Regions from separate parts of the Homo sapiens genome. Here regions 2, 3, 4 and 5 are each linked to region 1. Evidence: fine-mapped expression QTL. A gene starts in region 1. Each other region holds a variant in brackets. All regions are shown on one strand. Distances are from middle to middle. Region 1 holds the start of PAK2 (p21 (RAC1) activated kinase 2). Region 2 has its middle 26 kb from the start of SENP5. Region 3 has its middle 24 kb from the start of CEP19. Region 4 overlaps PAK2 (p21 (RAC1) activated kinase 2). Region 5 overlaps PAK2 (p21 (RAC1) activated kinase 2).

What was found.
Region 2: its variant is fine-mapped to the expression of PAK2 in whole blood (INTERVAL, PIP above 0.99).
Region 3: its variant is fine-mapped to the expression of PAK2 in whole blood (TOPMed, PIP above 0.99).
Region 4: its variant is fine-mapped to the expression of PAK2 in whole blood (TOPMed, PIP 0.98).
Region 5: its variant is fine-mapped to the expression of PAK2 in whole blood (TOPMed, PIP above 0.99).

What each region holds. Positions count from the first base shown.
Region 1 is chr3:196,737,131-196,743,569 of GRCh38, reverse strand. It overlaps PAK2 (p21 (RAC1) activated kinase 2), which reads right to left and starts at 3,713. Exons shown (of 15, transcript NM_002577.4): 1 at 3,413-3,713. RefSeq lists a silencer at 3,133-3,922.
Region 2 is chr3:196,838,603-196,845,041 of GRCh38, reverse strand. No RefSeq gene overlaps it. Among named protein-coding and RNA genes, the nearest start is that of SENP5, 26 kb to the left of the region's middle. RefSeq lists a silencer at 2,889-3,043. The variant A/G (reference allele first, on the strand shown) is at 3,540.
Region 3 is chr3:196,685,483-196,691,921 of GRCh38, reverse strand. No RefSeq gene overlaps it. Among named protein-coding and RNA genes, the nearest start is that of CEP19, 24 kb to the left of the region's middle. The variant C/G (reference allele first, on the strand shown) is at 3,438.
Region 4 is chr3:196,801,226-196,807,664 of GRCh38, reverse strand. It overlaps PAK2 (p21 (RAC1) activated kinase 2), which reads right to left. Exons shown (of 15, transcript NM_002577.4): 3 at 5,638-5,738; 4 at 4,501-4,648; 5 at 2,282-2,313; 6 at 979-1,086. Among named protein-coding and RNA genes, the nearest start is that of SENP5, 63 kb to the left of the region's middle. The variant ACACG/G (reference allele first, on the strand shown) is at 3,199.
Region 5 is chr3:196,826,681-196,833,119 of GRCh38, reverse strand. PAK2 (p21 (RAC1) activated kinase 2) reads right to left here. Exons shown (of 15, transcript NM_002577.4): 14 at 5,787-5,924; 15 at 473-4,801. The coding sequence ends at 4,715. Among named protein-coding and RNA genes, the nearest start is that of SENP5, 38 kb to the left of the region's middle. The variant C/T (reference allele first, on the strand shown) is at 3,148.

The sequences.
Region 1 (6,439 bases):
GGCCTAGAAGGCAGTTTTAATTCTAAGTTTAGGAGTATCGACTCTACAGCATGTAAGAACAGACTATTAACTAACGTTTATTAAGACCTATAATTACAGAATCCTTTACCTGCATTCCCTCATTTGATCTAAATATCCCTGTGAAATTGGTATTATTATTATTATCCCCATCTTACAGGTGAGAAAAGCAAGTCTTGAAAAGAATGTATATCTTGCCCAGGGTAAAGTAGAACAGCAAGAATTCAAACGCAGGACTCTAGCTCCTAACCACATGGGATACATGGAGTAAGTACTAAAGAAACTCAGAGATAGTAGGCTGGAACACTGAAATCCTGAATGAATGTTCAGACTGACTACCCTTAACCAGGCAGGTGACCCTAGAAGGGAAGAAGTGATGAAACTCAACTCTGATCACAGAAGAAAACAACCAGTATTTTATTTTTTGGGGGCAATGAGGGATTTTTTTCCTTTCCTATTCTGCTCTGTTAAGGCACAAAAAGGATACTAGGAAGAGCTTGGACACACAATTTGCAATTAACACCCTCCCTCTGATTAGTCTGGAAACTCAACTCTTATACCAAACTGATGGAAACCTTTACGACTTAAAGTCTTGAAGTTGACCCAGTTTCTTTTTCTTTTTCTTTTTTAATGAGACGGAGTCTCGCTCTGTAGCCCAGGCGGGAGTGCAGTGGCGCGATCTCGACTCACTGCAAGCTCCGCCTCCCGGGTTCATCACGCCATTCTCCGGCCTCAGCCTCCCGAGTAGCTGGGACTACAGGCGCCTGCCACCAAGCCCGGCTAATTTTTTGTTGTATTTTTAGTAGAGACGGGGTTTCACTGTGTTAGCCAGGATGGTCTTGATCTCCTGACCTCGTGATCCGCCCGCCTCGGCCTCCCAAAGTGCTGGGATTACAGGCGTGAGCCACCGCGCCCGGCGAAGAAGACCCAGTTTCAAATTTTAACCAAAAGTGTAAAAGTCAGAAAGCCAAAAGAAATATACTCAAATATTATTATAATAATAATCGATTTTGATGGATAAAAGGAAGAATCTAACAATTCCTACTCATTTTATCCTTGGCTACTTGAAGTTCTTAAATATTAGAAAAGTATAATTGAAAGTTTATCTTTAGCTACCTGAACAAGTTCTAGTCTCTCTTAAAAAGTATAATTGAAATAGAAACTGTTGGTGGTGTGCCGTGGCTCACGCCTATCCCAGCATTTTGGGAGGCTGAGGCGGGCAGATGACCTGAGGTCGGGAGTTCGAGACCAGCCTAACCAACACGGTGAAACCCCATCTCTACTAAAAATACAAAATTAGCCGCGCGTGGTGGCGCGTGCCTGTAATCCCAGCTACTCAGCAGGCTGAGACAGGAGAATCGCTTGAACCCAGGAGGCGGAGGTTGCGGTGATCGCACCATTGCACTCCAGCCTGGGCAACTGAAACTCCGTCTCAAAAAAAAAAAAAAAAAAGAAATATTAATTGTTAACCGCATCTACTTGGGAACCTGTCTATCATAAAGATCAGAGAGCCCTATCGCCTGTATACTCGAACTATAAACTTAATTTTGAATTTGGGTTTGCAAGGTTAGTATTAAATAGCACGGAGTCCAGAATAGTATCTCTCTCTGAATGAGAGTAAACCATAAACCAAGGCCCTAAGGGAAGTGAAATACCCAGGAACTCTTCCTTCATAAAAATATCTGCTGATTAGAAGAAACTGGCAGAGAAGCCAACATCTACAGACCAAGTTTCAAACTCCAACAAAACTCCAACCTTTCTACACCTTAATCCCTCAGGCCAATAAAACATCCATTAAGTTAAGGACAACTGATACTACTATTTAAGAAATGATGACAGTATTGAAGCTGAGTATTGGAGCCACTTTTTTCAGAGCCTTGCTGGAGGGAAAGGTAACAATGGGCTACTTAGTGAAAACACAAAATACACTGAATTTAGGTCAACCTGTTACCAAATCGGAAAGTTGGTTTAAGACCTACATCTATTACAGGTTCACTTTCCGTAATAAGTGTCAATCAATGTGCTTGGCTAATAAGTAGCTCGAAAGATTTAATAGCCGAGGATGACACAGTGAAAAAGTTGCCTGAAATCCATACTCCTAACAGAACATGAAAAAGGCTCTTCATATATACACGAGCATGAGTGGGCTTTACAGAAGCCACAGACCTTCTGGCAAAGTTGACAAGTTTTAACCTGCTTTAAAAATTACTATTCACTGCCTTCATCCCAATGTAACTTTACTGAGTGTTATTCTATTGGACAACCCTACAAAAACAAAATCCCCAGAGCAAATTCTTGTACATTTCAATATCCTGCCTACTTATAAGAGCGGAAGAGTCGAACACAGCAGGGGAAAAAACGTGACGTGCACAACCTTGATCCAAAACACAGCTCTTCGTAGTTTAATTTTAGGCCTAACCATTTTGTCTTTTTATAAAGGTTAAAAAAGAAAACAAAGAAAGGACACATCGCCTGTAACGCAGAAGTGAGATAATGATATCAACCGGAGTTCGTTATTTATCAAGGGACAACAAATCACGCTCACACTGCCCAGGGAGAGTACTACTAAAATTAAGATACAAGGATGGGTACAACCTCACACCCACTGACGATGACACGCTTCTGTTCTTGGATGACTTATCTTTAAAGAATTAGTTAAAAGGTTGAGTGGCAACGTTTTGTGTTTGTGCGTGCGTGTGTTTCCAAGAGAGCCAAACATGGTGAAAAACCAATCTTAACTTCACCTAAGTTATCTAAAGAAGCAAATTTCACCCCTAGGCTGAAGCTCAAACAGGAGCGAGGAGAAGCTCCGAAAGATCAGTTCGTAAGCGGTGGCCCTCAAGCGCCCGGGACGCTCTACGTTTTTACCAATGTGGAATGTGGAAAAGAGGTTACAGGCTGGAGCTGAGAAAACAGTCAAGCTACTCGCGACAATATTCCTGAGCAGTGAAACGGGTGAACAGAGAGCGAGCAAGCAGGGGCTGAGAATCAGTGAGAGGAAAAATCAAGGAACAAAACCGGAGAGTCTGGTCCAGCATTAAGAAAACGGAGCAAAGGAAGAGGGTGAAACGCGAGGGGAGGGAAGACCGAGAGTCGGCAGAGACCGTGGTGCCGCGAGGTTCAGAGCAGGGCTGGGTCCAGGAAGAGTCAGACCTCCGCAGCCCAGCGAGCTTCCCATTTCTGGCTAAAGCCAGCGAAGAAAACGGCCCTGGGGAGCAGACAATGAGCCACCGCCCCAGGAGCTGCGGCTCCCAGCACGCAGGTGGCGGCTCCCCGGCCCCGCGCGGGGCAGGTCGGCCGTCCCGGGCCGCTCCCGCCCGCCAGGCCACGGAGAAGGAAGGAGGAGGAAGAGACCCGGCCTGCGTCCCGCGCCGGCCGGCCTGTGTGCACTTACCCCGGGCAAGGCAAGGTCCCCGCCCCAGCGAGGCGCCTCGGTCAGAGCTCCCGGCGGGCTGCGGAGCCGCCCCGGGCTAGCGCGCGGTGCGGGGAGGGGAGGGGAGGGAAGGGGAAGCGGGGCGGGAAGAGACGCCGCGCTGGAGCAGCCGCTGCTACCGCTAGGCCCAGCGGCGGCGGAGTCCTGCGCACGCCAGGGAGGGGAGGGGAGGGAGCCTTCGGCAATGGCGACGGCCCGGGCCGGAGGGGAAGCGGAACAACCGCCGCCGCTGCGCGTGGCCACAACCCTGGGGGAGGAAGACGGCGGGGAGCGGGGCGGGGCGGGGCCAGAACCCAGAACCCCTCCCGCCCCGAAGCCGGAGCTCCCCGGGGCGGAGACGAGCGCCACCTCCCATGGGCAGGCCCGCGCGGGGGCCGCTGGGAGTAGTAGTTCGGTGATAGACGTTGCTTTTATTCCTTGGGTAGTCTTTGTATTGAGAGGAGCAGCCAGTCCCTCATTTAATTCAGCATTGTCTCCAAGCAGGTCTCTGCCGACGGAAGACGCTGACAGACGATTGCTGTTATACACATCTGCTCCGCGACATTTGTTTCTGGGAATTCATCCGTTATCCATTTTGCTTTTTTGCTTACAAATTCTTAACTAAAATTTTGCTGCTAAATTAAGTATCACCTCCTTGCAAATTAAGACTTCCCTATTTTATCCACGGAGGAGTTCATCAATGTTTCACTTATTCTACAAATATTTGAGTGTCTGATATGGACTAGACACTGTTAAGCATCAGAAATACAAGGGTGGTTCAGGTGCGGTGGCTCACGCCTGTAATCCCAGCACTTTGGGAGGCTGAGGCAGGCGGATCACCTGAGGTCGGGAGTTCGAGACCAGCCTGGCCAACACGATGAAACCCCGTTTCTACTAAAAATACAAAAATTAGCTGGGCATGGTGGCACGCATCTGTAGTCCCAGCTACTCGGGAGACTAAGGCAGGAGAATCGCTTGAACCCAGGAGGAGGAGGCTGCAGTGAGCCAAGATCGGGCCACTGCACTTCAGCGTGACAGAGTCGTCATGCCTCAAAAACAAAACAAAAAACACAAAAGAAATGCAAGGGTGAACACGATTCACCAAGCCTTTGTGGAGCTTATATGAGGACGCAGTAATTAAAGTAGTCACACCTGGTATAAGAAAAAACTTGGCGAGGTTACTTTGGATAGGGTGGTCGGAGAAGGCCTCGTTAAGGAGGTGACACTTAAGGCAAGAACAGAAAGAGACAGCAATAAGAAGCACCCAGAGAAAAGCAATACAGGCAGGAGAAGAAAGAAAAGGGCTTGCTACGGTCAGTTAAGAAGGCCTGTGTAGCTGGGGCCTAGAACAAGAAGGCGGTACTATTAAGAAAACACTACAGCAGACAAGATTCAGGTCATGAAAGATCCTGAATGCCATGGTAAAAAGTCTATATTACAAAAAACCATTAAAAGGCTTTTTTAAGCAGGAAAGCGATGTTACCTGGCTTACACTTTAAGATCACTAGACTGCAATGTGGATAATGGAGTATAGAGATGCAAGAATAGAAGGGAAATAAAGTAGGAAGGCAGTGGAAAGAAAGAGGAATTGTGCTTCTCTATCAATGTAGAGCAAAAAACTCAATTGATGCAGTGGGTACAGGAGAGAAAGGAATCAAGGAGCAACATGGCACAGTAAGAGATAACCTGAAAAATGCTCTGATTATTAAACACACAGAAACACTGGATAAATAAGACATCCTTTCAAAGGCATAACTTGCAAGAATGAAAATAGAATGTTTCTGACAGTCTTCCAAATTTCACACTCAACCTGAAGAAGGGGCAGGACACCAGAGTGGTAAGCAGGGCAGTGAAGCCATGGTTGTGTTGAGGGCACCTACTTATCTCAGAAATCTCTAGAGTTTTAATAGGTGCACAGGAAACTAAAGACAAGGACTTGGGCCTATACAAGAAGTCAGGACTGTGATCCTGCATAGGACTGGAAATTCAAGGCGCTATACCCTCCAAGAACAGACTGGGGGGAAAAAAAACCCTATGCTAGCCCAGGGAGACACACAGGACATTTGTTTACTTTGGCCTGCAGTGGGCTTGCAGGGCAGAAGAAAATTTTCCCTTTAGAATTAATAACCCTTTAGAATTTTCCCTCACTAAGGTTTTAAAGTTCAAATTTGTCAAGAAAGTGGTCCCAGGCTGGAGTTCTGGGGGGCCTGGAAGAAACAAATACAAATCCTGACTGCACAGGTGTACCCTCAACCTCGGTCTCAAAGGATTTCACAGATAAACAGGATTTCCGAAGCCAAACATGAGCACCCGAAATACAATACACCTGAGGAAATAAGCAGCGATGAGTGAGTCAATAGAAACTACAAAGAACATAATGAAACCCACACAGACTTTAGCTGCTGGAATTGATGGCTACAGAATATACAGTACGCCTATTTAAATGATTAAAGAAAGTAAGACAGGAGCTAGAAAACACGAGCAAGAAACAAGATGCTTTTTTTTTTTAACGACCAAACAGCTTTGAAAATGAAATAAGTAGGCCAGGCGCGGTGGCTCACACCTGTAATCCCAGCAGTTTGGGAGGCCGAGGTGGGCAGATCACCCGAGGTCAGGAGTTCGAGACCAGCCTGGCCAACATGGTGAAACCCCAGTCTCTACTAAAAATGCAAAAATTAGCCAGGCGTGGTGGTGGGCACCTGTAGTCCCACCTACTCAGGAGGCTGAGGCAGGAGAATCACTTGAACCTGGGAGGTGGAGGTTGCAGTAAGCCAAGAACATGCCATTGCACTCCAGCCTGGGCAACAAGAGCAAAACTCCGTCTCAAAACAAAAACAACAACAACAAAAGAATTAAGTAGAATTTCTAGAAACAAAGAATAACTGAAACCAAAGCCAATGTTTGGTTAAATAGCAGATTACACACAATTGAAGAGAAAATTAGTAAACTGGAAGACAGACCAAAAGAAATTACTGAGAACAGCCTAGAGACAGGAAAAATGAAAGCAAG
Region 2 (6,439 bases), 100 kb before region 1:
TCAGCCTGAAACCGCTATTGCAAAATTGTAACTGAGTCAGTGAAAGAGATCCGACCTAACCGACTCCATCTTGCGTCTAACCTCCAAGCTGCCCTTGTTCATTCCTGGGCGTAGGCTGAACTAACTTGGGGGGAAACTTAATTTATAGTTTAAAACAAAGACGGTAACAGCCCTTTCCCAAAGCAGACCTCCTTCTTGCCGGGGGACTAGACTAACATTAGTCACAAGATTAGAAATGATGGTTTAGGAGCCATGCAGCTGGAGGCTACAAGATTCTGACCCTCCCTACACTGCTCCTAAGATCAGCGCTTGAGATACTTTGCAGACTCCACACTTGATGGATCAGCTGGCACCACCCAGATGGATAAACTGGCTCATCTGATCTTGTGGCCCCGACCCAGGAACTGACTCAGCGCAAGAAGACAGCTTCAATTTCCCATGATTTCCTCTCCGGCCCAACCAATCAACACTCTCTCACTGGCCTTCCCCCACCCACCAAATTATCCTTAAAAACACTGATCCCCCAATGCCTGGAGAGACTGATTTGAATAATAATAAAACCGCGATCTCCTGTACAGCCGGCTCTGCGTGAATTACTCTTTCTGTACTGCAGTTCCCCTGTCGTGAGGTATCAGTTCTGCCTAGGCAACGGGCAAGGGGAACCCATTGTGCAGTCACAAGCCTGGGCAACATAGTGAGACCCCATCCGTACAAAAAATAAAAAAAGTAGCCAGCTGTAGTGGCGAGCATCTCTGCTCCCAGTTACTCAGGAAGCTGAACTGGAAGGATTGCTTGAGCCCAGGAGGTCAAAGCTATAGTGAGCCATGATCACACCACTGCCCTCCAGCCTAGGCAGCAGAGCTAGACACTGTCTCGATAAATAAATAAATAAATGGAAAAAGAAATGGCTGTTTCCTGATGAACTGAGTTGCTTGTTAATTGGTAATGAGGTCATCAGTGGGCTCTCATCAGTGAAATGAAAGGTGTTCGGGATCCTTCCATTGGCTAAAGTTATTTGAGAGACTCCTGCTGCCTTTGCATAAACAAGGTGTAAGAATCTAGTGAGGTCAGCAACGCGACCCCTTAGGAATGGCCCTCAGGGCTCCATCGTTACATAATCCTGTGACCAGCCACTAGTTAAGAGGATGTCTGGTTACATGATGCCATCTTTAAGGGTAACAGAATCCTGGCCCCTGGCACGTTTCCCTCTCTGCCTCAAGTGAACTTTTCATGCAAAGTTGTGGACAGAGCATTTGGGACAGAGAGCATGGATTATAGTGAGCTACAGGATAGGCTGAACAAACACTTTTGCTGACAAATGTTTGCTTAAATGAGCTTTCAGGTGTGTGACAAGATTTGGTCTGCGACTTGCTTTCATTATAATCTGGCAGGGGGGTTGTCAGAAGTTAGTTAACCCTCACCACCTCAAACTCCATAGGTAGCTATAACTTTACAGAAACAACCTAAGCATGTCCGGGTGAGGTGGCTCACACCTGTAATCCAAGCACTTTAGAAGGTTGAAGCGGTGGATCACTTGAGGCTAGGGGTTCAAGACCAGCCTGGGTCACATGGTGAAACCCGTCTACAAAAAAACACAAAAATTAGCCGGGTGTGGTGGCTGTAGTCCCTACTTGAGAGGCTGAGGTGTTAGGATCACTTGAGCCTGGGAGGTGGAGTTTACAGTGAGCTGAGATCGCACCACTGCACTCCAGCCCGAGTGACAGTGTGAAACCCTGTCTCAAAAAAAAAAAAAAAAAGGAAAAAAACAACCAAACAAAAATGAGGCATGATCAAACCTGGCTTAGGTTCATTTGCAACAATCTGCAGACCACGTTTTTCTTTATCCCTTTGTCAGAGGTGTTTGAACCGGAGTGACTCCATCTTGAATAAGGACTGGTTAAAATAAGGCTGAGGCCTGGAGGTCAGCACAAGATACAGGTCATAAAGACCCTGCTGATAAAACAAGATGTGTTACCAAGCCAGCCAAAACCCACCAAAACCAAGACGGCAATGAGGTGACCTCTGGTGGTCCTCACTGTTCATTAGACGCTAATTATAATGCATTAGCTGCTGAAGGACACTCCCGCCAGCACCATGACAGTTTACAAATGACATGGCAACGTCAGGAAATTACACTGTATGGTCTAAAAAGGGGAGGAATCCTCAGTTCCGGGAATTGCTCACCCCCTTCCTGGAAAACTCATGAACAATCCACCCCTTGTTTAGCATAACTGTAAGTATATTCAGTCAAGCAGCCCAAGCTGCCGCGCTGCCTATGGAGCAGACGTGCTCTATTCCTTTCTTTTCCTTTTTTTTTGAGACGGAGTTTTGCTCTTGTGGCCCAGGCAGGAGGAGCTCAATGGCACAGTCTCGGCTCCCTGCAACCTCTGCTCCCGGGTTTAAGTGATTCTCCTACCTCAGCCTCCCGAGTAGCTGGGATTACAGGCGCATGCCAACACTCCCAGCTAATTTTTGTATTTTTAGTAAAGATGGGGTTTCACCATGTTGGCAGGATGGTCTCGATCTCTTGACCTGGTGATCCGCCTGCCTCGGCCTCCCAAAGTGCTGGGATTACAGGTGTGAGCCACCCCGCCCGGCCCTATTCCTTTACTTTCTTAATAAACTTGCTTTCAGTTTACTCCGTGGACTCCCCTGGAATTATTTCTTGCATGAGGTCCAAGAACCCTCTCCTGGGGGATTGGGTCCCTTTCCATGAACACCTTTCTACCTCTTCTCCTTCCAAAAGTCCAGAGTTTACTCAGCCACAAAAGCTCCTCAATATAAAGTCTACCAAAGGCCAGGTGCAGGGGCTCACACCTGTAATCCCAGCACTTTGGGAGGCTGTGGCGGACGGATCACAAGGTCAGGAGTCCAAGACCAGCCTGGCCAATATGCTGAAACGTCTCTACTGAAAATACAAAAATTAGCCAGGCATGGTGGTGGGCGCCTGTAGTCCAGCTACTGGGGAGGCTGAGGCAGGAGAATCGCTTGAACCTGGGAGGCGGAGCTTGCAGTGAGCCGATTACACCACTGCACTCCAGCCTGGGTGACAGAGTGAGATTGCGCCCCCCACCCCCCAAAAAAAGAAAAAAATAAAGTCCACCAAACTCTGCAATTCTGAAAGAGGCCAGTCTTCAAAATTGCCTTTTGTGCCTCATTTCCCTATCCACTAATTCAGACACACAACAGGCCCTCAGCATGTTTAGGAGTTATGACTGAAGAGCATCTGAATGGCGAGTATTAAAGTTTGCACTAAATTATCCTGAAAAGGAGGCAAAGGGGGTATACAACGTTCATTCATCTCTATTGGATGCCTTTTTTTCTTCCTCCTAGAAGCAGGATCCCTGAATTAGGATAGGCTGAAATTTATAGGCTTCCCAACTATTCTCCTTTTTGAATATTATTATTATTATTATTATTATTATTATTATTATTATTTTGAGATGGAGTTTCACTCTTTGTGCCCAGGCTGGAGTGCAATGGCATGATCTCAGCTCACTGCAACTTCCACCTCCTGGGTTCAAGCGATTCTCCTGCCT[A/G]AGCCTCCCAAGTAGCTGGGACTATAGGAGTGCGCCACCACACCCGGCTAATTTTGTATTTTTAGTAGAAACAGGGTTTCACCATGTTGCCCAGGCTGGTCTTGAACTCCTGACCTCAGGTGATCCACCCACCTCAGCCTCCCACAGTGCTGGGATTACAGGCATAAGCCCCGGTGCTGGCCTCTACAGGCTACTTTATGGCTTCTGTAAAGTGTCTCTTTATACTAAAATTTAGAGGACTATGTATTTCTGACTTTGAACCAATGTTTCATTTATCTGGCTTAAATTGAATTAAATTGTTTCTCTTTTGAAGTGCAATTTCAACTATCCATAAAATAGTTTCCAATCCAACATTTAAAATCTTTCAGTAAAATCCTCCCTTTTTGTTTATTTATTTATTTTTTGAGACAGAGTCTCACTCCATCACCCCAGGCTGGAGTGCAATGGTGCGATCTCGGCTCACTGCAACCTCTGCCTCCTGGGTTCAAGCAATTCTCCTGCCTCAGCCTCCTGAGTAGCTGGGATTACAGGCGCACGCCACCATGCCCAACTAATTTTTGTATTTTTGTAGAGATGGGGTTTCACCATGTTGGCCAGGCTGGTCTGGAACTCCTGACCTCAGGTGATCCAAAGTGCTGGGATTACAGGAGTGACCATTTCTAGGTACTTTGTATTTTTGATCTGTTATAAATGGTAGATTTTTAAGATTATGTGTTCTATTTGTTGCTAGTGCTTAGCAATATAATAGACTCTTGCACACTGATTTTGCATACAGCAAACTTGCTAAATTTCTTAATTTTAATAGTTTATCATATCAACCTTATCTGAAAATAATGAGATTTTATCTTGCTTTCCAATTCCTTTTTTTTTTTTTTTTTTCGAGACCAAGTCTCACTCTGTTGCCCAGTCTGGAGTGCAGTGGCGTGATCTCGGCTCACTAAAACCTCCACCTCCCAGGTTCAAGTGATTCTCCTGCCTCAGCCTCCAGGATTACAGGTGCCCACCACCACGCCCGGGTAATTTTGTATTTTTAGTAGAGACCAGGTTTCACCATGTTGGCCAGGCTGATCTCAAACTCCTGACCTCAGGTGATCCACCTGCCTCGGCCTCCCAAAGTGCTGGGATTATAGCCGTGAGTCATTGTGCCCAGCCATTGCTTTCAAATTCTTTTTTTTTTTTTTGAGATGGAGTTTCGCTCTTGTTGCCCAGGCTGGAGTGCAATGGTGTGATCTCGGCTCACCACAACCTCAGCCTCCCGGGTTCAAGTGATTCAGTTCACTCCTGGCTGGCACAGTGGCTTCACTGTAATCCCAGAACTTTCGGAGGCCGAGGCACGTGGATCACCTGAGGTCAGGAGTTCAAGACCAGCCTGGCCAACATGGTGAAACCCCGTCTCTACTAAGAATACAAAAATTAGCCAGGTGTGGTGGCTCACACCTGTAATCCCAGCTACTCGGGAGGCTGAGGGAGGAGAATTGCTTGAACCTGGGAGGCGGAGGTTGCAGTGAGCTGAGATCATGCCACTGCACTGCAGTCTGGGCAACAGAGCAAGACTCTATCTCGGAAAAAAAAAGTTCACTCCTAATTTGCTAAAATATATATTTTTAATCATGAATTGATACTGAATTTTACTAAATGCTTTTTTTTTTTTTGAGATGGAGTTTTGCTCTTTTTGCCGAAGCTGGAGTGCAATGGAGAGGTCTCAGCTCACTGCAACCTCTGCCTCCCAGGTTCAAGTGATTCTGCTGCTTCAGCCTCCCGAGTAGCTGGGATTACAGGTACATGCCACCATGCCCGGCTAATTTTTGTATTTTTAGTAGATACAGGGTTTCACCATGTTGGTCAGGCTGGTCTCGAACTCCTTACCTCAGGTGATCCACCCACCTCGGCCTCCTAAAGTGCTGGGATTACAGGCGTGAGCCACCGTGCCCAGCCAATGCTTTTTTTTTTTTTTTTTTAAGAGACAGTGTCACTCTGTCATGTGGGCTGGAGTGCAATGGTGCAATCACAGGTCACTGCAACCTTGAACTCCTGGGCTCAAGCCATTCTCCTAGCTCAGCCTCCAGAGTAGCCAGGACTATAGGTGTGCTACCATACCTGGCTAATGTTTTTTTATTAGGTTTTTTAGAGACAGGGTCTCACTATGTTGCCCATGCTGGTCTTGAGCCTGGCCTCAAGTGATTCTCCTGTGTTGTCCTCTCAGAGTGCTGGGATTACAGGTGTGAACCACTGGGCTCAGCCACTCTCTTTAATCTGTTGAGATGCCCAGATAATCTACTAATACTGTAAATTATCTTGATTTTTACATGCATAAGCCTACTTGTTTAGGATGCACTACCTCTTTCATACATTGCTAGATTCGGTTTGCTAGTAATATATTTAATAATTGCACATTTGTATTTATGAGATTATCCTATACTTTTTTTTTTTTTTTTTGAGACGGAGTTTTACTCTTGTTGCCCAGGCTGGAGTGCAACGGCACGATCTCGGCTCACTGCAACCTCTACCTCCTGGGTTAAAGTGATTCTCCTGTCTCAGCCTCCTGAGTAGCTGGGATTATAGGTGCATGCCACCATGCCCAGCTAAAGAGAGGGAGTTTCACCATGTTGGCCAGGCTGGTCTTAAACTCCTGACCTCAGGTGATCCACCTGCCTCAGCCTCCCAAAGTGCTGGGATTATAGTTGTGAGCCACTGCGCCTGGCCTATCCTATAATTTTCTTCTTCAATTATTTTGGTATCATGGCTACTCCATCCTTATAATAGAATTTGGGGAATGTTTTCTATATCCTCAAATACTTTGTGCAGGATTGGAATTTTTTCTTTGAATATTCTTAGAACTCATTGGTAAAACTGCCTGGGTGTTTGCTCTAAATTTCATCCAGGGAATGGGGAAGAACTAC
Region 3 (6,439 bases), 52 kb after region 1:
GCGGTGGCTCACGCCTGTAATCTCAGCACTTTGGGAGGCCAAGGAGGGTGGATCACTTGAGGTCAGGAGTTCGAGACTAGCCTGGCCAACATGGTGAAACCCCGTCTCTACTAAAAATCCAAAAATTAGCTGGGCGTGGTTGTGTGCACCTGTAATTCCAGTTACTCGGGAGGCTGAGGCAGGAGAATCACTTGAACCCAGGAGACAGAGGTTGCAGCAAGCCCAGATCACGCCATTGCACACTCTAGCCTGGGGGAAAAGCATAAAACTCCGCCTCAGAAAAAAAAAAAAAAAGAAGAAGAAGAAAAAAGAAAAGACAGAACTCTCTGAAGATCAAAACCGCCAGCAACGGGAAGGGTGACTTTGTGAAGCAGTGACCCCGCTGTCCCTACAGCAGCCCAGCAAGGCACCAGAGAGGTTAACCATTGGCGTTTTTCAAGCTGCCTTCTGTGGAGCAGCATCCTGGGGAGCTAGGGTTGGGGTCGGGTGTAAAAGTGGTCATTGTTCTGAGTGATAAAAAGAATAAGGAGGTGGGAACTGGACTCCTAATTTATCCACAGCAGCTCAATTCTTACATGTTGAAGTTTTTCCCATTTCAGAGTTCTACTTGAGATCTTCATTAAGGGTTCTGCTATGAAAATCAAACCTGCAAACCACCAGAGATGATGGCTTTCTTCGCTATCTCTTTTCTTTTTTGAGATGGAGTCTCGCTCTGTCACCCAGGCTGGAGTGCAATGGCGTGATCTTGGCTTACTGCATCCTCTGCCTCCCGGGTTCAAGCGATTCTCCTGCCTCAGCCTCCCGAGTAGCTGGGATTACAGGTGTGCGCCACCAAGTCTGGCTAATTTTTGTATTTTTAGAAGAGACAGAGTCTCACCACCTTGGCCAGGCTGGTCTTGAACTCCTGACCTCAGGTGATCTGCCCACCTCGGCCTCCCGAAGTGCTGGGATTACAGGTGTGAGCCACCGTGCCCGGCCTCTCCACCGTCTCTGGTGGACACAACACCCCGTCTCTTAGGTGCCTGATTCTCAGACAGGACTCAGGAGCAGAGACCAGATAAATCTCAGATTTGTCTGAGCTTATTTACTTCTGGAGTTTTCTAAATAGCTCTCTCTCTTCCCTGGGGTGGGTTGCTTTTTTTTTTTTTAAGGCAGTTTTTTCAATCTTTTGGGTAGTAGCTCTTGAGTCTGTAAAGCCTGGTAATTTTCTAGAGGTAATTGGCATTAACCATCAAGACTCTCCTCACATGCTCCCTTCCCACTCTGGCACCCTCCTCCCACAGGCCTTCCTCCCGTCCTGCTGCCTCCATCAGTCTCTTCCTCTGGCAGCCAAGGGTTGCCTCTCCAAGTGGTCCCAGGAGAGAAATCCTAGGGCCACGTATCAGTCAGAACACTAGTCCTGGACACCTGTGTTTCTCCTGCCCGCAGGCAGACCCTTCGGGAGACACTTGACCAGCGCAGGCCCTTGGGGGGCAGCTCGCCAGGTAGGACCCCTCCCTGCCAGCTGGGGTTTCCCAGCTCCCCACGCTTGAGTTCTCCTACCTAGAATCTTCTTAGGACTACTTTTAACAGCTGCAGTCCTCTCTGCTTGCTTTACGCCTCCCGAGACTCGTTGTTGCAAAAGTCTTTCTGTGCTAGAGACCCAAACTTTGAATCTCTACTCAAGCTAGTGGTTCTTAGACTTCAGCATGCACCAGACTCATCTGTGGGACTCACGATAGCGCAGATTGCTGCGTTCCACCCCCAGAATTTCTGATTCAGTAAGTCTGGGGTGGAGCCTAAGAATTTGCATTTATTTTCCTTTTTCTTTTTTTAATTTGTTTGAGATAGAGTCTCGCTCTTGTCACCCAGCCTGGAGTGCAGTGGCGCAATCTCAGCTCACTGCAACTCCCACCTCCCAGGTTTAAGCAATTATCCTGTCTCAGCCTCCTGAGTAGCTGGGATTACAGACGTGTGCCACCACGCCTGGCTAATTTTTATATTTTTAGTAGGGACAGGGTTTTGCCGTGTTGGCCAGGCTGGTCTTGAACTCCTGACCTCAGGTGATCCGCCTGCCTTGGCCTCCCAAAGTGCTGGGATTACAGGTGTGAGCCACTGCGCCTGGCCAAGAAATTGCATTTCTAACAAGCCCCCAGACCACACTTTGAGAAGCGCTGTGCGAGGCTTTTGCTTTCCTTCACTGTTGCTGTGGGTATTGGTGTTCCAACCCACAATTCCCTTTTGCTCATACTAGCTTCAGTATATTCCAGTGTCTCTCTGCTTATAGGCTTTTTGTAATAATCTTATTTCTATGGAATTCTGATATACTATGGCCTTTTTTTTTTTTTTTTTGAGACGGAGTCTTGCTCTGTCGCCCAGGCTGGAGTGCAGTGGCACGATCTCTGCTCACTGCAAGCCCCGCCTCCCAGGTTCACGCCATTCTCCTGCCTCAGCCTCCCGAGTAGCTGGGACTACAGGCGCCCGCCACCACGCCCGGCTAATTTCTTGTATTTTTAGTAGAGACGGGGTTTCACCATGTTAGCCAGGATGGTCTCGATCTCCTGACCTCGTGATCCGCCCGCCTTGGCCTCCCAATATACTGTGGCCTTCTATTTTAACTATCCTACGACCACTGGCTCTGTGGGCCAGGGTTTCACCCTCACACAGGTGCTATGCACTTAGAAGGCATTCTTTTTTTTTTTTTTTTTTTTTTTTTCAGATGGAGTTTCGCTCTTGTTGCCCAGGCTGGAGTGCAGTGGCGCCATCTCAGCTCACCACAACCTCCGCCTCCGCCTCCCGGGTTCAAGTGATTCTCCTGCCTCAGCCTCCTGAGTAGCTAGGATTATAGGCACACACCACCACACCCAGCTAATTTTGTATTTTAGTAGAGACAGGGTTTCTCCATGTTGGTCAGGCTGGTCTCGAACTCCCGACCTCAGGTGATCTGCCCGCCTCGGCCTCCCAAAGTGCTGGGATTACAGGCATGAGCCACCGTGCCTGGCCTAGAAGGCATTCTTGCTGAAGAAATTCGGCGGAGGGAAGGATTCATGCAGGCTGGAGCAACAGGGAAAGCTTCACAAAAGGAGTTGGAGTTGAGTGTGTCCTCAAAGGGAGATTTGTCTGTGTAGAAGGGAGAGGAACGAGCATTCCTGACAATGGCTCCTGGACATAGGAGCATTTGTTGGGATGACACGGAGGAACAGACTCTCACTGGAACACACATCTCTTCAATGAGGTGGTGAAATACATCATGGGAAGGAGCCTGTCTGTACCAGAACTCTTACAACCTATTAAGTGCAATTAGCCTCGCTGTAGCCAAAGGGATGTTGATTTTGCTCAGCAGATTGTTATTCAGGATCCCCAGGGACAGTGGTGCTGTGTGGGCAAAGCAGCGTGGGCAGCAGCAGCGTGGGAATGGGTGTGTTCACTCCCGAAGCCCAGGACAGATAACTCCACTT[C/G]TTGTTTCTGTAGAAAGAAGTGTGGCAAGAGCTGACCCGAGGAAGAAGCTTTGCTCAATAGGAAATGAGCTATGATGATGAAATGAGGAAGCCCTGCTGGGCTTCAGCTTGATGGTTCTGAATTATAAAGAGAAAAGAATGTGCAAAAAGCGAATATGATCGTGGAAAACTGGAAACACTCCAAATATCGAAAACTGGAAACACTCCAAATATCCATCAATAAGACATTGGTTAAGTGAATTGCGCAGTGTCCATGCTGCGGCATACTATGAAACCCTTAGGCAGAAGAAGGTAGCACTGGGCATAGTGACCTGGAAATAACTCCTAGCTACATGGTTAAGTGAGGAAAACAAGTTGCCAAATAGTATATTATAATTCTTTGATTTAAAAAATATATCAGTAAAAACTCTTGAATGAGGCCAGGTGCAGTGGCTCACACCTGTGATCCCAGGACTTTGGGAGGCCGAGGCGGGCGGATCACCTGAGGGCAGGAGTTTGAGACCAGCCTAACCAACATGTAGAAACCCCATCTCTACTAAAAATACAAAATTTAGCCGGGCGTGGTGGCGCATGCCTTTAATCCCAGCTACTCGGGAGGCTGAGGCAGGAGAATCGCTTGAGCCTGGGAGGCAGAGGTTGCAGTGAGCCGAGATCACACCATTGCACTCCAGCCTGGGCAACAAGAGCAAAACTCAGTCTCAAAACAAAAACAAAAACAAAACAAAACTCTTGAATGATGTGTGCAAAGTGACTGTTAACAGTTTGCCTGTGGAAAGAGGAGTGGGGTTAAAGTGGGAGATAGAGAGCTTAAGTGACTTTTCATTTTTTATTTTTAAAATTAAATTTCTGAATGGTTTAAATTTTTTCAAACATGCAATTGAAATAAATTCCAGCTAATGTGTACTCAGTGCCAGACACTGCTCTAGGTGTTTTAGGCCTATTATTTAATCCTCCCAACAAACCTCTGGAGATAGGTATTATTAATCTCCCCCATTTTGCAAATTAGAAAACTGAGGGCCGGAGCAGTGAAGCAGCCTGTCCAAGGTCACACACTAATAAGTGGGAGAGTTGAAATTTGAACCCACGTCATGTGGCTCCAGCATCTATGGACTGACCCTCTCACTGCAAGGCCCTCGATGGACCATGTTGGTCCATGGGATGGTAACTGTAACTGTAATAAGATTCCAGTAAAAACCGCACAAAAACTATGTGCATAGAAAAAGCAATGGGAGTCTCTATAGTTGTCCCTTTAAAACATGGATCCAAAGATTCACTCTGAATTCCAGCTCAGACAGGCTAATTCAGGCATGAAATATAGTGATTTCAGAACACAAGGAAAGCCTCACTTCTCCCTCCTACCCCAAACTGTTGGTTAACATTTCTTGAACAAGGACTAACTTTTTACCACCCAAATAGCGATCAAGCTTAATATGTGAATATTTCTGGACAAGGCGTAACTATCTCAAATTTAATTGTGTATATCTCTGATTTAATATTATCAAGGTGTAAATAGCAATCACATACAAAAAGCAGGTTGTGATAAGAGATGGGGAAAAGGCAGGAAGGAGGGACTCAGAGCATGATAGGGTACATATGGGGAAGGCAGACGGCAGCAGACTATCATATACTAGTTATCAATGATACTTCTTTACAGTGATAGAAGCCTTCCCTTTCCTAAGAACTTCCTATGTATTTACACATTTGATCTTGACAACTTATGAACTAGAGAAGACAGATTTCTTCATTTTATTGATAGGGAAAACCAGGCTCCAGGAGGCTGTGACTTGGTAAATTACCAAGTTGGAACCGGAACCCAAAACTCCTGATTCTCCCTCGAGGATTCTTGAATTACACCCAGACACTTCAGCCACATCACAACTTCACCCAGCATTAGGTCTGAGTCAGCATCAGTGTAAGAAAATGTAGCAGACAAAAGCTCCAGAGGTTAAAGGGAGCAATAGGACCCTGGCCAGGACCCACTAAAGGACATCCAGGTGGAAGGACAGAGGAAGAGCCCAGGTCAACATAGGGGATGCCAAGGTCACAGGCTGGGGGAATGGCCCCAGTGCTGACACCAAGCAGCTAGGAAACAGGGCAGAAGTTTTGATTGTGGCATCTATATGCCAGGACTTTGCTCCCACCACTTCTCCCATGCTGCCCCCATTTCTAGAATCTTCCTCCTATTTCTTTCCCTTCATTCTTTGCTTTCCTCTCCCACTCTAGCTCCAAACTCGCATTTGCAGTTGTATAAAGGGGGGAAATACATGAATTTTTAGAAATAAAATTTGTCTTACCAATGGGATTGGAATTGTAATCCCATTCTCTTAAACTCATTTTAAACCCCTACTAAATCTTTGAACCTTTTCTACTTTATCACATGGTTAGAATGGGTGAAGTTCCATTACTCAATTCTTTCATCACTTAATTAAATCCAATTAATCTATTGACTGCTTTGCTCAATCTTTTTTTTTTTTTTTTCCAGACAGAGTCTTGATCTGTCGTCCAGGCTGGAGTGCAGTGGCACAATCTCGGCTCACTGCAACCTCTGCCTCCCGGGTTCAAGCGATTCTCCTGCCTCAGCCTCCCGAGTAGCTGGGATTACAGGCATGTGCCACCACACCCGGCTAAATTTTTTGTACTTTTAATAGAGATGGGTTTCACCATGTTGGCCAGGCTGGTTTCTAACTCCTGACCTCAGGTGATCCGCCTGCCTCGGCCTCCCAAAGTGCTGGGATTACAGGCCTGAGCCACCGCGCCTGGCCAATCTGTTTAATCTTGAATTCTCTTCATATTCTTTCTATGACTAGTGCTACAGCGGTGCTGGATGTTTAAGTGATCTTCAGCTGAATTCCGCATCTCCCATGGCTTTGACTCTGTAGTCACCTCCCCTAAAAGTCATGCTGATGACCTGAAGACATGGACACGCTCCACAATCCATGCGATATAGAGGAGAAGGAAAATAAGAATGAAAACAAATACTAAACACTATCATTCCTCTAGGG
Region 4 (6,439 bases), 64 kb before region 1:
CTAAATAATGAGAACACTATTTTCAGATATAAAAGATGTGTAACTAAGAAGAATAAATGTGAAACATTTTTCTTTGGCATAGCATGAATATATTTGAAAAGCTGTCTAGTAAAACAGCAGGTCCATGAATGAAATTTAAGTGTGACCAGGTCTAAAATGGTATAACAATGTATCAAAAAGCACGGTTTAAAAATCATGTTTTTACTACAAATGGTAAGTAAAATGCAAAAGAACAGAAACCTTGATGTTGAAATAACTATTATTAATTCCCATGAAAGTTTTTACACAATTATAATGCCTACCACCCATTTCAAACAGCCAGATTGAAAGGCTAAAGAAAACGGAGTCCTCTGCCATCAGCTTGGCATCCAGAGGCTGTCTCCTGAGCTCTGCCTGCCCGCTGTGCCAGGAGCACAGCCCATTCCACGGCACAGCACCTTCCGCACACTCTACCTGCAGTACTGAAGGGAGCAGAATGGTAACCGCAGTCATTCCTCTCTTCCTGGCTCCATTTAAGGTCATCATTTTTAAAATTCTCCCTTACCTGGTTAGGAATTTCATTCTCAACTGCCTTTTGAATGACAGCAAGGCGCTGAGAGTAGTGTAAAATGGGAGATTAAAATGCATAATCTGGGTAAGAGGAAAGCTCTAAGTTTTAGATTTAGTCGTCATCTACATTGAGATAAACAGAGAAAGCTTGGGAAATAGACGAACCCTCTGGAAAAGGTGTACTATACAAAGAAAAAAGCCCAGTGAGGTGAGTGCGTTAACTTTTAAAGACATCACATTTTAATCTTCAGAAAACTAGTTTTAGGTGAGTGGTCTTTGGGTACAGATTTCTTGGTTAAATTTCCCCATACTAAACGATTTTAAACTTGAGGGCTTTTTAAAAGCAATCACTGAAAGTCAAATACAAACTCTGCTATTTTTTAAAACACACGTGCACACACACAGCCTAGATCACCGATGGAGACTCACTGATTTCGTATGATCCGGTCGCGGGGCAATAACGGGAGGAGCAGTCTCTTCATCATCATCCTCCTCCTCTGTCACTACTGCGGGTGCTTCTGTTCCCTTGGCATTCAGCTGCATTGATGATGAGCAAAGTAAGGAAAACAAGTCCAATAGGCTTAAATGCGACTATCGCCCTTTATGAACGTACTTCAAAAAGTTTGCTTCTTTGATAGCTCATTTCAAAACCACTAAATCTCATTAGCTCTTAGATAACTCAATAGAATTATAATCTAACATAATAAGGCGATTCTATGAATCATGAAAAAGTTTATGAAATATATATATATGGTGAGTACCAAATATTTTAATAAAGTTACCCTAAGCATACATATACAATGTCCTGAAAGTAAACAATGTTACTTGTTAAGACCAAAATCAAAGATCCTCTGGGCTTTGTTATGTCAGAGACATCTGGTGACATTTAAAACAGTCAGATTTGGGGCCGGGCATGGTGGCTCACGTCTGTAATCCCAGCACTTTGGGAGGCCGAGGTGGGTGGATCACAAGGTCAGGAGATCAAGACCATCCTGGCTAACACGGTAAAACCCCGTCTCTACTAAAAACACAAAAAATTAGCTGGTCGTGGTGGCAGGCGCCTGTAGTCCCAGCTACTCGGGAGGCTGAGGCAGGAGAATGGAGTGAACCCAGAAGACGGTGCGTGCAGTGAGCCAAGATTGCGCCACTGCACTCCAGCCTGGGCGACAGAGCGAGACTCTAACTCAAAAAAAATAAAAATAAAATAAATAAATAAATAAAATAAAATAAAATATAAAAAAATAAAACTCCAGGAGACTGTTTCCTCCCAATTGAGAAACTGCAAATAAAACGACTGTTTCCAAAAACTGACTGTGTTTATGCGATAACTTAAGTTTCAGATGACTCTGAAGACTGACAAGGTTCAACTGTTCAGCACCTTTCCACAGTCTATATTCAGTAAAATAGTACCAGAAGGAAAACTGAGGGATGGAGAGGAAAATATATGCTAGCAAGTTCTTTGTGTTCACGTTTGTATATGTTAACATTACCAAAACTAACTAAACTGTTCTGAAGGTCATTATAAATTTTAGTTACATTAAGTATCACATCAAGGAATTTCTATTTAATACGGCTTCTTCAACTAATCAGGTGGCTAGCTAAAAACACCTATTGAGTAGTTATTTACCTCTGATGGCTGTAATTTATTTTAGAAAGCAAAATAAAAACTGAGATTTGTCTTGGGTAACCTAAATTAGAACAAGAGATACAAGAAATAATATAATTAACTTACTGCTGGTGTTCCAGAAGGAAAGCCATCTTTCTCTGAATATGAAACAAAACATAACATTAGCAATTCAAGAAACAGCACTTTTATATGATAAAAGGAAAAAAAAAAAGCAGAGAAAGTGAAATGTTCTTAAACTGATTTCAAGTTGAATTAACTCTTGAGAAAAATGAACACGCAAGTAGTCAAATAAGAATTTATATAAGACCAAGGTAAGAAATCTGAAATCTACATGAAACTATAAATTTAGTAAAAATCAGTGAATTATATATTTAAAATGGGTGAATTGTATTGCATGTAAATTATACCTCAATAAAGCTATCAAAATTTAGTTTGAAAGTATACCTATCAATCTGTATTTATTAAAACAAAACAAATTTATTGATAAAGATACTTTCTCCAGAAAACTGCTGACTGAGGAACTTAATGCAACAATTAAGACAATGACAATTGTGCAAAGTAAAATTCTGACATTGTTTTGTTTTTCTTTTAAAAATGCCCAGAGACATACATATATGTGTGTGTGTGTGTATATGTGTGTGTGTATATATATATATATATGTGTATATATATATATATATATCACACACACACACACATATCACATATTACATACGCACAGGCCGGGCGCGGTGGCTCATGCCTGTAATCCTAGCACTTTGGGAGGCCGAGAGACAGGCAGATCACCTGAGGTTGGGAGTTCAAGACCAGCCTGACCAACATGGAGAAACCCAGTCTCTACTAAAAATACAAAATTAGCCAGGTGTGGCGGCGCATGCTTGTAATCTCAGCTACTCAGGAGGCTGAGGCAGGAGAATTGCTTGAACCCGGGAGGCGGGGGTTCTGGCAAGCCGAGATTGTGCCACTGCACTCCAGCCTGGGCAACAGAGTAAACTCCAGCTCAAAAACAAAACAAAACACAC[ACACG/G]CACGCGCGTGCGCACACACATATATGTATGTATGTGTACTAGGTGAAAATAAGCTACCATTTTGTGGTCAAACATTGGTTTTTCAAAAAAATTACTAATTTACACACAGACTTACTGGTTGATAGAAAAGTTCTAGGAGCAAGTGTGACCTTTTCCTAACGGTGTACTAGACTCAACAAAAAAAGGTCAAGATCACTTGAAAAAGATTTCTATTTCTCCCTTGCACATGGCCTTTGTTTCTGTGAGGATGCAAACAGTAAGTAAAATCAATTAAAACCACATGTACGATTTTAGCTCCATCATATTGCTTTTGAAAACCACATGTATGACTTCAGAGACAGACAAACATATTGAAAAATGACATCCTGAGGATGTAGTGAGCAAAATCTAAACTGAGGGAAACAGGACAAATGATCTTGTTTCTGTAATAAATAAACGTCAAGAAAAGACAGCATGAACCAGTGTGTGGGAGGGGAAGCCTAAAGATCAAAAGAGATTCAAGAGATGTATCAACCAACTGCGTTGTATGAACTTTATTCTGATCTTTATTTGAACAAAAACTATTTTTAAAAATCCACTACACCAACTCTTACACTATATACCAATTCACTGGTTCTCTCATAGGTTAACGGTATATCTCAGATACTGAGCAACTTGGAAAACAAAGTACATCAAACCCCATTTCCATCCAGCTATATTCATCCAGAAAGTAAAATTTGCATTACTGTGACTATGTAGATGATATTCCAGATATTCCATTTCTGAGGTATAAATCCTTTTAGTTCTAACGCTTCTTTCGTATATGATTTATCTGTTTTATATATTAAAATACATATATTCTATTATCTGCACACTTGCGAGTTTCAATTTTTTGAGTGGACCTAAACATTTTTTAGTTCAACCTCCTCTTGTCCCGCTAACAATAAATGTGTTTCTAGTATGAACATGTCTATCAACCAGCGTCTTTTCCTTTGATTGCTGGAAGTCATTTAAAAGCAGTGAAGAGTGAAAAATGAAAACAAAAACACAGCAATGAGGAGAAAAAACCAAATAAACAAAAAGCCAAAATATCCATCAACTCCCGTTTCTGGCAAACCTATGAGATTACTATAATTCACAGATCCAAATTATGCTTCAGAACTGCCCTGGATCAGTCTACAAAAGGTAGAATCTATCCAGGGAAAAACCGTTATCAACAAGAACCATAGTTTAGCTTTTCATTTTTCCAGGAGTAATCTTTTTATCTAGAAGTGCTTCACAAATCTCCATCTGATCCAGCCTTATGCCACTCTCTTACCAGGAGGAGTAAAGCTCAGATATTTCTGCTTCACTGTGTTGGAGTCGTAGAACTTTAGGACATCCAGCACAGCCTGAGGATTCTTCTTTTGCTCTAGTTTGGTGATATTGGAGGTCTGTAGTAATCGAGCCCACTGTTCTGGCATGCCCTAACAAGAAGATATTCAGAAATTAGTTATGGTTTAAATTGATGCAATAAAATTAATTTCCAGAGATAAATGACAAAATACACAAAACAAACCAATCTTTTGAGTGTAGGTTTGAGTAAATTTTAAAAGATCTCATTTTCTAAAGGTCTATTTTTTCTTTTTTCTTTTTTTGAGACAGAGTCTCACTCTGTCACCCAGGCTGGAGTGCAGTCGTGCGAGATCTCGGCTCACTGCAAGCTCCACCTCCCGGGTTCAGGCCATTCTCCTGCCTCAGCCTCCAGAGTGGCTGGGACTACAGGTGCCCGCCACCACGCCTGGCTAATTTTTTGTATTTTTAGTAGAGACGGGGTTTCACCATGTTAGCCAGGATAGTTTCAATCTCCTGACCTCGTGATCCACCCGCCTCGGCCTCCCAAAGTGCTGGGATTACACAGGCGTGAGCCACCGCGCCCGGCCTAGGTCTATTTTTTCTAAGTCTGTTTTGCATAACTATAATTAATAGGCTCTGCTCTCTAGGAAAACGATATATCCAACCACTAACACTTTTATAAAAAGCAAAAAGCAGTAAGAATTCATAGTTAACGTATAGATAGAAATGTTAATTTCCCTTTTTTTGAGACGGAGTTTCACTCTTCTTGCCCAGGCTGGAGTGCAATGGCACAGTCTCTGTTCACTGCAACCTCCATCTCCGAGGTTCAAATGATTCCCCTGCCTCAGCCTCCTGAGTAGTTGGAATTACAGGCATACACCCCCACGCTTGGCTAATTTTCTTGTATTTTTAGTAGGGATGGGGTTTCACCATGTTGGCCACACTGGTCTCGAACTCCTGACCTCAAATGATCTGCCAGCCTTGGCCTCCCAAAGTGCTGGGATTACAGGCGTGTGCCACCGCACCTGGCCTGAAATGTTAATTTCAAATTTAATAATGAAGGAAAATGTTTGAGTGCTATTTTAAACGTTATAAATGGGCCCGAACTAGGTTAACTTACAGTGAATTCTCCAGTAACAGCATCAAAGCCAACATGGATGGTGTGCTCAAAATCAGATGGAGGAGAAATTTCTGGCCGTTCCTTTTCTTTCTTTTTACTTCCTAGGGGGCATTAGAAAAAAAGAGAAAGAATCAGCCTATTTAAACAAGACTAGTAAAGGCACTTATAATTTTATTTTTTGTCTTTTGTTTTTTTAAATGGAGTTTCGCTCTTGTTGCCCAGGCTGGAGTGCAGTGGTGCAATCTCAGCTGACTGCAACCTCTGCTTCCCGGGTTCAAGCCATCCTCCTGCCTCAGTCTCCCAAGTAGCTGGGATTACAGGTGCCCACCACCATGCCCGGCTAATTTTTGTATTTTTAGTAGAGACAGGGTTTCATCATGTTGATCAGGCTGGTCTCAAACTCCTGATCCACCTGCCTTGGCCTCCCAAAGTGCTGAGATTACAGATGTGAGCCACCGCATGCCCGGCATATTATGTTTATATTTTTCCTAAAACATATTAGGATCAAAGTTATTCTAGAAAACACACTAGAATCAAAGTTATTCTAGAAAAGATTTCCCCTAAAAACTGGCTGATAGGAAACTAGTAAATGAAGTAAAGCAGACTGTCCTGCCATAGAGTAGGGCTGGACACAACCAAACACTGAGGAGGCACATGGAGTGACCAACGGCAGGCCTGAGTAACAGAGCACAGGCAGAAGAGACACCCCCTTCGGGCACCAGCTCTCTCACAAAGGGCTACATCTCAGATGCTGAGCAATGTGGACAGCAAACACAGCAAACCCCATTTCCACTCAGCTACA
Region 5 (6,439 bases), 90 kb before region 1:
TTGTGGCTGTTCCCTATGTTAGGGTACCTAAGATTCCAAATTAATTCACATAATGAAGTGATGCCTTACGACGTATTGCACTCTAAAAGGTTTCTTGGTTCACTTAACACAGAAATTCTGATCAGGTTTTTATTACTCCAGCAAGGTGTGTGTTCAAATCAGAACTGTTTCCCTGGGTCTGATAGAGAAACATTGATAAAGAAAATTATTCTGAACTTGATTTAGAAAGGGAAAACTTCCCCTAACTACTCAGGAGGCCGAAGCAGGAGAATCACTTGAACCTGGGAGGCAGAGGTTGCAGTGAGCTGAGATGGCGCCACTGCACTCCAGCCTGGAAGAAAGAGTGAGACTTGTCTCAAAAAAAAAAAAAAAAAAAAAAAAAAGGAAAACTTCATGTTTACTGCCCACACATTTCTAGAAACCTTCCTACTTTGGAGCTTTGTAATAAATTCAAAATGATGGCACAACACCATTAAAAGGTTTAAAACATTTATCACTAAAAATACTAAATGTTCTTTGAAAACCTATTAAGACATTTAAATATTCTTTTATGCTATCAAAAGACATTAAAATATTCTTTTACGCTGATCAAAAGAAAGAATAAAAGTTTAGGAAAGGGAAAAATGCACACTTTTTTTAAAAAGTTTATTTCTAGCCCTGAAAGAACAAAATTATTGAACAAAGTCAAAATACAGCAGTTAATGTCAATGTATAACAATTAAATAATTGAACGGGATTAAATTAAAAATAAAAGGCATAAAATTTGAAGACAACAGAAAAGACAAAAACTACTTTTGCTTAATTCCATTTCTATCAAAACAAGAAAAAAAAAGCCAATGCGTTCCAACCAAAGATGTTGAATTCCACACGTAACTGTTTCTCTTATTACTTCTGTTCTCTTAGAAACACTTCTAAGTTCTAAGAGAACAGAAGTGTGCTTGACAGAACTATCATCCATTTCTTTCTGCCTCTGTCTTGGCAGCTTTCTAGAGAAGTGAATGGGAAAGACTTCGGTTCTTTCAAGGCCAGGCCAGCGCTTGCTTCTTCTTTCGAACTCCAACCTCATCCACCACAGCATCTTTGCCAGAGTGTTCAATCAATGTGTTGACTGAGAAAAAAGAATGTGTGTATCTATTTTTTCTTATATACACACACTATCAAAAAACTGATTTTACCAGTTTCAATACCTACTGTGGGAGCAGCGGAGACAGGAAGACAATCTGCTTTTTGTATTACTATGAAGTTCCACTATAAAAAACCCCAAATGAGTATTAATCTGGATTTTAGCTATAATCTATAATATTTTGACACTGACATTTCACTAGATGTGGATCTCAGTATATTTTAAAAGATTTAGACTCAAAAATGGATGCAAATTCTTTAAGCATCTATTTTGTTTTTTTCTAATTTTAGCTACTACCTGATCAGATCTAAAATTATTCTGGCTAGAATACAGTATATACAAACATGTATTTAAGTGAGCCCTAAAAGAAATACTCATAGGTGGTTTAGAATCGCTTGTTAGAGGCACAGGTTCGTTTACAGTTGCTGGTTACTAGACTGTACGCAGCTGGACACTTCTATGTTAAAGGGAAGAGAATGAATACTATGTGCCAGGCAGTCAACACATGAAGACAGAGTTGTATTAGCCTCAGTGTCTTATGCTTCACAATTACTCGTTTACTTTCAGGTAGGATAAAATGTTCCATGTTTCATAGTTTCCCAGTTTTAATTGTCCCTAAAAGCAGCAGAAGAAAAAAGAAAAAGAGAAGATAACTTTAAATCTAAAATAAAATAAATAAGTACTATAATAATACTGTCCTAATAACACAAGAGGACTATTAAGGTAACTTTCAGATTTAAATGGGAATTTTCATTCTAAAGTGATGACAAAAAGGGTAAATATAAAAGGCAATTATTTAAAAAACATGAGGCCAGGTGCAGTGGCTCACGCCTGTAACTGCAGCACTTTGGGAGGCCAAGGTGGGCAGACTGCCTGAGCTCAGGAGTTGGAGACCAGCCTGGGCAATGTGGTGAGACTCTGTCTCTACTAAAAATACAAAAAAATAGCTGGGTGTGGTGGCGGGTGCCTGTGGTCTCAGCTACTCAGGAGGCTGAGGCATGAGAATTGCTTGAACCCAGGAAGCGGAGGTTGCAGTGAGCTGAGATCATGTCACTGCACTCCAGCCTGAGTGACAGAGTGAGACTCTGTATCAAAAAAAATAAAAATAAAAAACATGAATCTTGATTCAGATATAATTTTTCTTTCAACAAGTTCTGAATGTTTTAAAATTAATAAATCACAATTCTGTATTACTTTTAAGATTGTTTAAAAATGACACATTTCAAAATTAACCAAAGTATATTTCTGTTAGAGGTTAGTTTATCCACGTAACTTAAGAATAAACCACAGCGTAGCTCCCTTAACCAAAGAGCCAGGTTTTAATGACAAGTCAGTTGCCAGCAATGGACGTGCAGGTAACTATCGAAGAAGTCGCAACTACAAATCCCAAACTGCTTCTATCAATGGAAAAGCCCTTTGTTGAGTCACAAGCCTGAAACGAGGCGTTGGCACATAGTCAGTGAGGATGGTCTTTGACTTAGGAGGGAAGTGCCTCTGAGTACATGAGGATCACAGTCTTCTCATCTCGTTGGTTTTCTATTTCATTGGTAGCATCTTCTTTATCATAATCCATCCAACTGTTTACAAAGAATGGTAAAATTTGGAACTCAGGTGGCACTGCAGCTTTCTGCCAGAAATAAACCAGTTTCTATAATTCAGTAATAGCTGTAGAAGGCCAATATATTCCAGAGAAAAATGAAATCAAGAATTATATTGAAAACAGAGACCATTAAGTGCTCTAAATATGTTTCATTAATTATTTTACTCATTTTTCTGAAAATCTTGCCTTATCAATAAAAAACAGTCACTTCTCTCCTTATAATTGCATCTTATCATAGATATAGTGGAAATAAAATAATGGAAATAAAACCTGCCAGTTTCTCCAATGTATACTACAACAGCAAAATTATTTTTTATTCATGATTTATACTACTGCAGGATGGCAAGCAGGGGGGAAGTTAATGGGGGAAGGGGATGGTGGGAACAAAATGCCAGAACCAAACCACAGATACTTGAACAACACC[C/T]ACTCCAAAAGCAAAACAATGAATAAAGGAGAAGAAGAGGAGAGGAAAAAAGAGAAGAGAAAAGGGAGGGGAGGGGAGAAGGGAGGGCACTCAAATAATTAATGCTACAGGTCTCAGACCTTTTAGAATCTTTAAAAGAAACAAATTATTGCTATCAACACGCACATTTCATTTTCCTTTCTCGTTTTTTACAATAGTCTCTACTTATTTGAAAAAACAAAACAAAACTAAACTAAAGTAACTCAACATCTCAAATGATCTATAAATTCATCAAGAAATACTCTGTCGCTCAAGTTCTCATAGATAATACCACACTGCTGACGACCTGGGGCAATGCCACCGCCGCCAAGTCTCTACAGTCGATTTGCTATCGGCTGCTTCTCTGTAACACTAACATTCTCTTTCATGAGTATAATCTCTTCTCACTGTATCAGAGCTCACCAAGGTTCACATCTCTTACTGCCTCTGCTGCTAGTCCCAAATATTTTTCTCCTTTAAGTGGAAAAAAGCTAATTTTTAAATTCCTGAAAATTCACTGGTTATTATATTATTTGCCATGGGAGGGGGTATCTGTGAGGTGAGAGAGGATTAATGAAAAAGAAAAAGAACAAACCTAAACCTAAAATTGCAACATATACAGAAATTTATTTCCAAATTGAAGGGGGAAAGGAGGGAAGAAGGTAGTGGCACTAACCAAAGTCACAAAGCCCAGGTTGGAACAACAACAAATCACTTTGGTTCCTAGAGCCAAGCCTGAAGGGGAAACAGGCAGAAGGGAAGACAAAATGGGAAGAAGTCTACAGTCAATGGGAATCTTTTTCTATCTCAATGATTTAGTTATAAATAGAGATTATTAGTCTTCTCTCTATACATGTAACAAATGCCGAACTTACTACCACGAAATTTCTAAAACTGACTTTTTCACATTTGTTAAAAAAGGTAAAAATCACATACTTTTCTTCCCTTCCTTCAGGTCAAGTTCTGAACTAAAATATTACATGTAACAACAGCTGGTCCTAACTTTTATACAAAGTGAAACTATATAGAGCTCCTTTGCCAACATAAGGAGCTACATAATTTCTATTACACTTGCCTAGGCATGAGAAACGCAAAAGCAACTCAAAAGGAGCAAGTCCAGGAAAAGAAAAGCTATGAAGGAGAGAAAGACTAGCAGATGAAACACATACTCTGAAAAACTCCAATCTGCCATTCAAGTATTGGAAATACCCCAAAGGGGACAATGAATGGGATCTATTACAACAAAGTCAGCAAAGTAAAATGCAAATCTCACACATGATAAATGGCCCTGATAGGCTGTTTGCTGAAAGACCTAAGGCTAGTGATTCAGTCCACAATTCCTTCTGGACCCTAAAGAAGGGGTTCATATAAAAGTCATACTTGTCTTTTTGCAATTTTCTCTTGGTTGTCTTCAGAGAATAGTCATTTGCTTCTTTCATTCAGGTTATGCAGACCATTTCTTTAAACCCCAAAAAGAGTAATAATTTTCATATACTAAAAGGCTTCTTGTAGAAAATGGAAAAAAGAGTATGAGGCCACAGCAGTGATGTTAACGGTTACTCTTCATTGCTTCTTTAGCTGCCATGATCAGTGGTGTCAAGCTAGATAACGGTTTGGCCAGTTTCAGGAAAGGATGCTGCCAGAAAGAAGGGGAAAAATAAATGTATAAGTGCCATTCATCAGGTTAGAAACAAAATAATTTTGTTCAATTAAGCCCCAAAGACTACTTGTCGATCATAATTTAATAAACTAAACACATATTAATACCTTCATAAGACTAACATAATCAACGCATTACTTTCAGAGTTGAATGAAAGCAGAATCATTTTAGTTTGACAAATATACACACAACAGCAATAAACAGGTCTGAGGAGTGATACGATGCACAAACTGTAAACAGGTCTGAGGATTGATACGATGCACAAACTGTAAACAGGTCTGAGGATTGATACGATGCACAAACTGTAAACAGGTCTGAGGATTGATACGATGCACAAACTGTAAACAGGTCTGAGGATTGATACGATGCACAAACTGTAAACAGGTCTGAGGATTGATACGATGCACAAACTGTAAACAGGTCTGAGGATTGATACGATGCACAAACTGTAAACAGGTCTGAGGATTGATACGATGCACAAACTGCACATTACGGTTTTGTCAGAATTTTATTCACAGCAGATGAAACCCTCACTTTTTTTTTTAATACTTTAAGTTCTAGGGTACATGCGCACAACGTGCAGGTTTGTTACATATGTACACATGTGCCATGTTGCTGTGCTGCACCTGTTAACTCATCATTTACATTAGGTATATCTCCTAATGCTATCCCTCCCCACTCCCCCCACCCCACAACAGGCCCCGGTGTGTGATGTTCCCCTTCCTGTGTCCAGGTGTTCTCATTGTTCAATTCCCACCTATGAGTGGGAACATGCAGTGTTTGGTTTTCTGTCCTTGCGGTAGTTTGCTCAGCATGGTAGGATGAAACCCTAAATTGCAGCAGCTGCCATACCGCTGGTGATCAATGAGTAGTGAAATCTACTTATTAGCCCTAGGAAAGCTTTCTGTCGGTTACCAAAAAAGTCAACTATTCCCCCAAATGAAATCATTTTTAAATTTACCTGTAATAATTCTTTGGCTGAACCCCTTTTTTCCACATCCATTTCCAAACATCGATTTAAGAAATCCCGAAATATTGGGGAAAGTTTCTCTGGATTCTGAAGTTCTGGGGTTCCATTAGTTGCTATTAGGTACAAGGCCTAAAAATAGAAGAACATCTTTGATCCACTTAAGATAGCTCAACACGGTCACAGAGCACTCCATAAAGTCTAAGGGATTCTTTCTTCTTTAAAGAAAATCACCATAAATACTAAACTGGGGTTATCATTATCCCATTTAAATTTAGATTTGATACTTTCCTCTTATTTTTAGATGTTACATTTCCTTAAGTTACTTTTCTGAAATCAGATTCACCTTTGGTTTTTCTTCGGTTATAAATGCAATACATATTGCTTTTGTTTTGTTTTTTTTTGTTGAGACGGAATCTTGCTCTGTCACCCAGGCTGGAGTGCAGTGGTGCAATCTTGGCTCACTGCAACCTCTGCCTCCTGGGTTCAAGTGACTTTCCTGCCTCAGCCTCCCGAGTAGCTGGGATTACAGATGCATACCACCATGACCTGCTAATCTTTGTATTTTTAGTAGAGGTGGGGTTTCATCATATTGGTCAGGCTGGTCTTGAACTCCTGACCTCAAATGATCCACCTGCCTCGGCCTC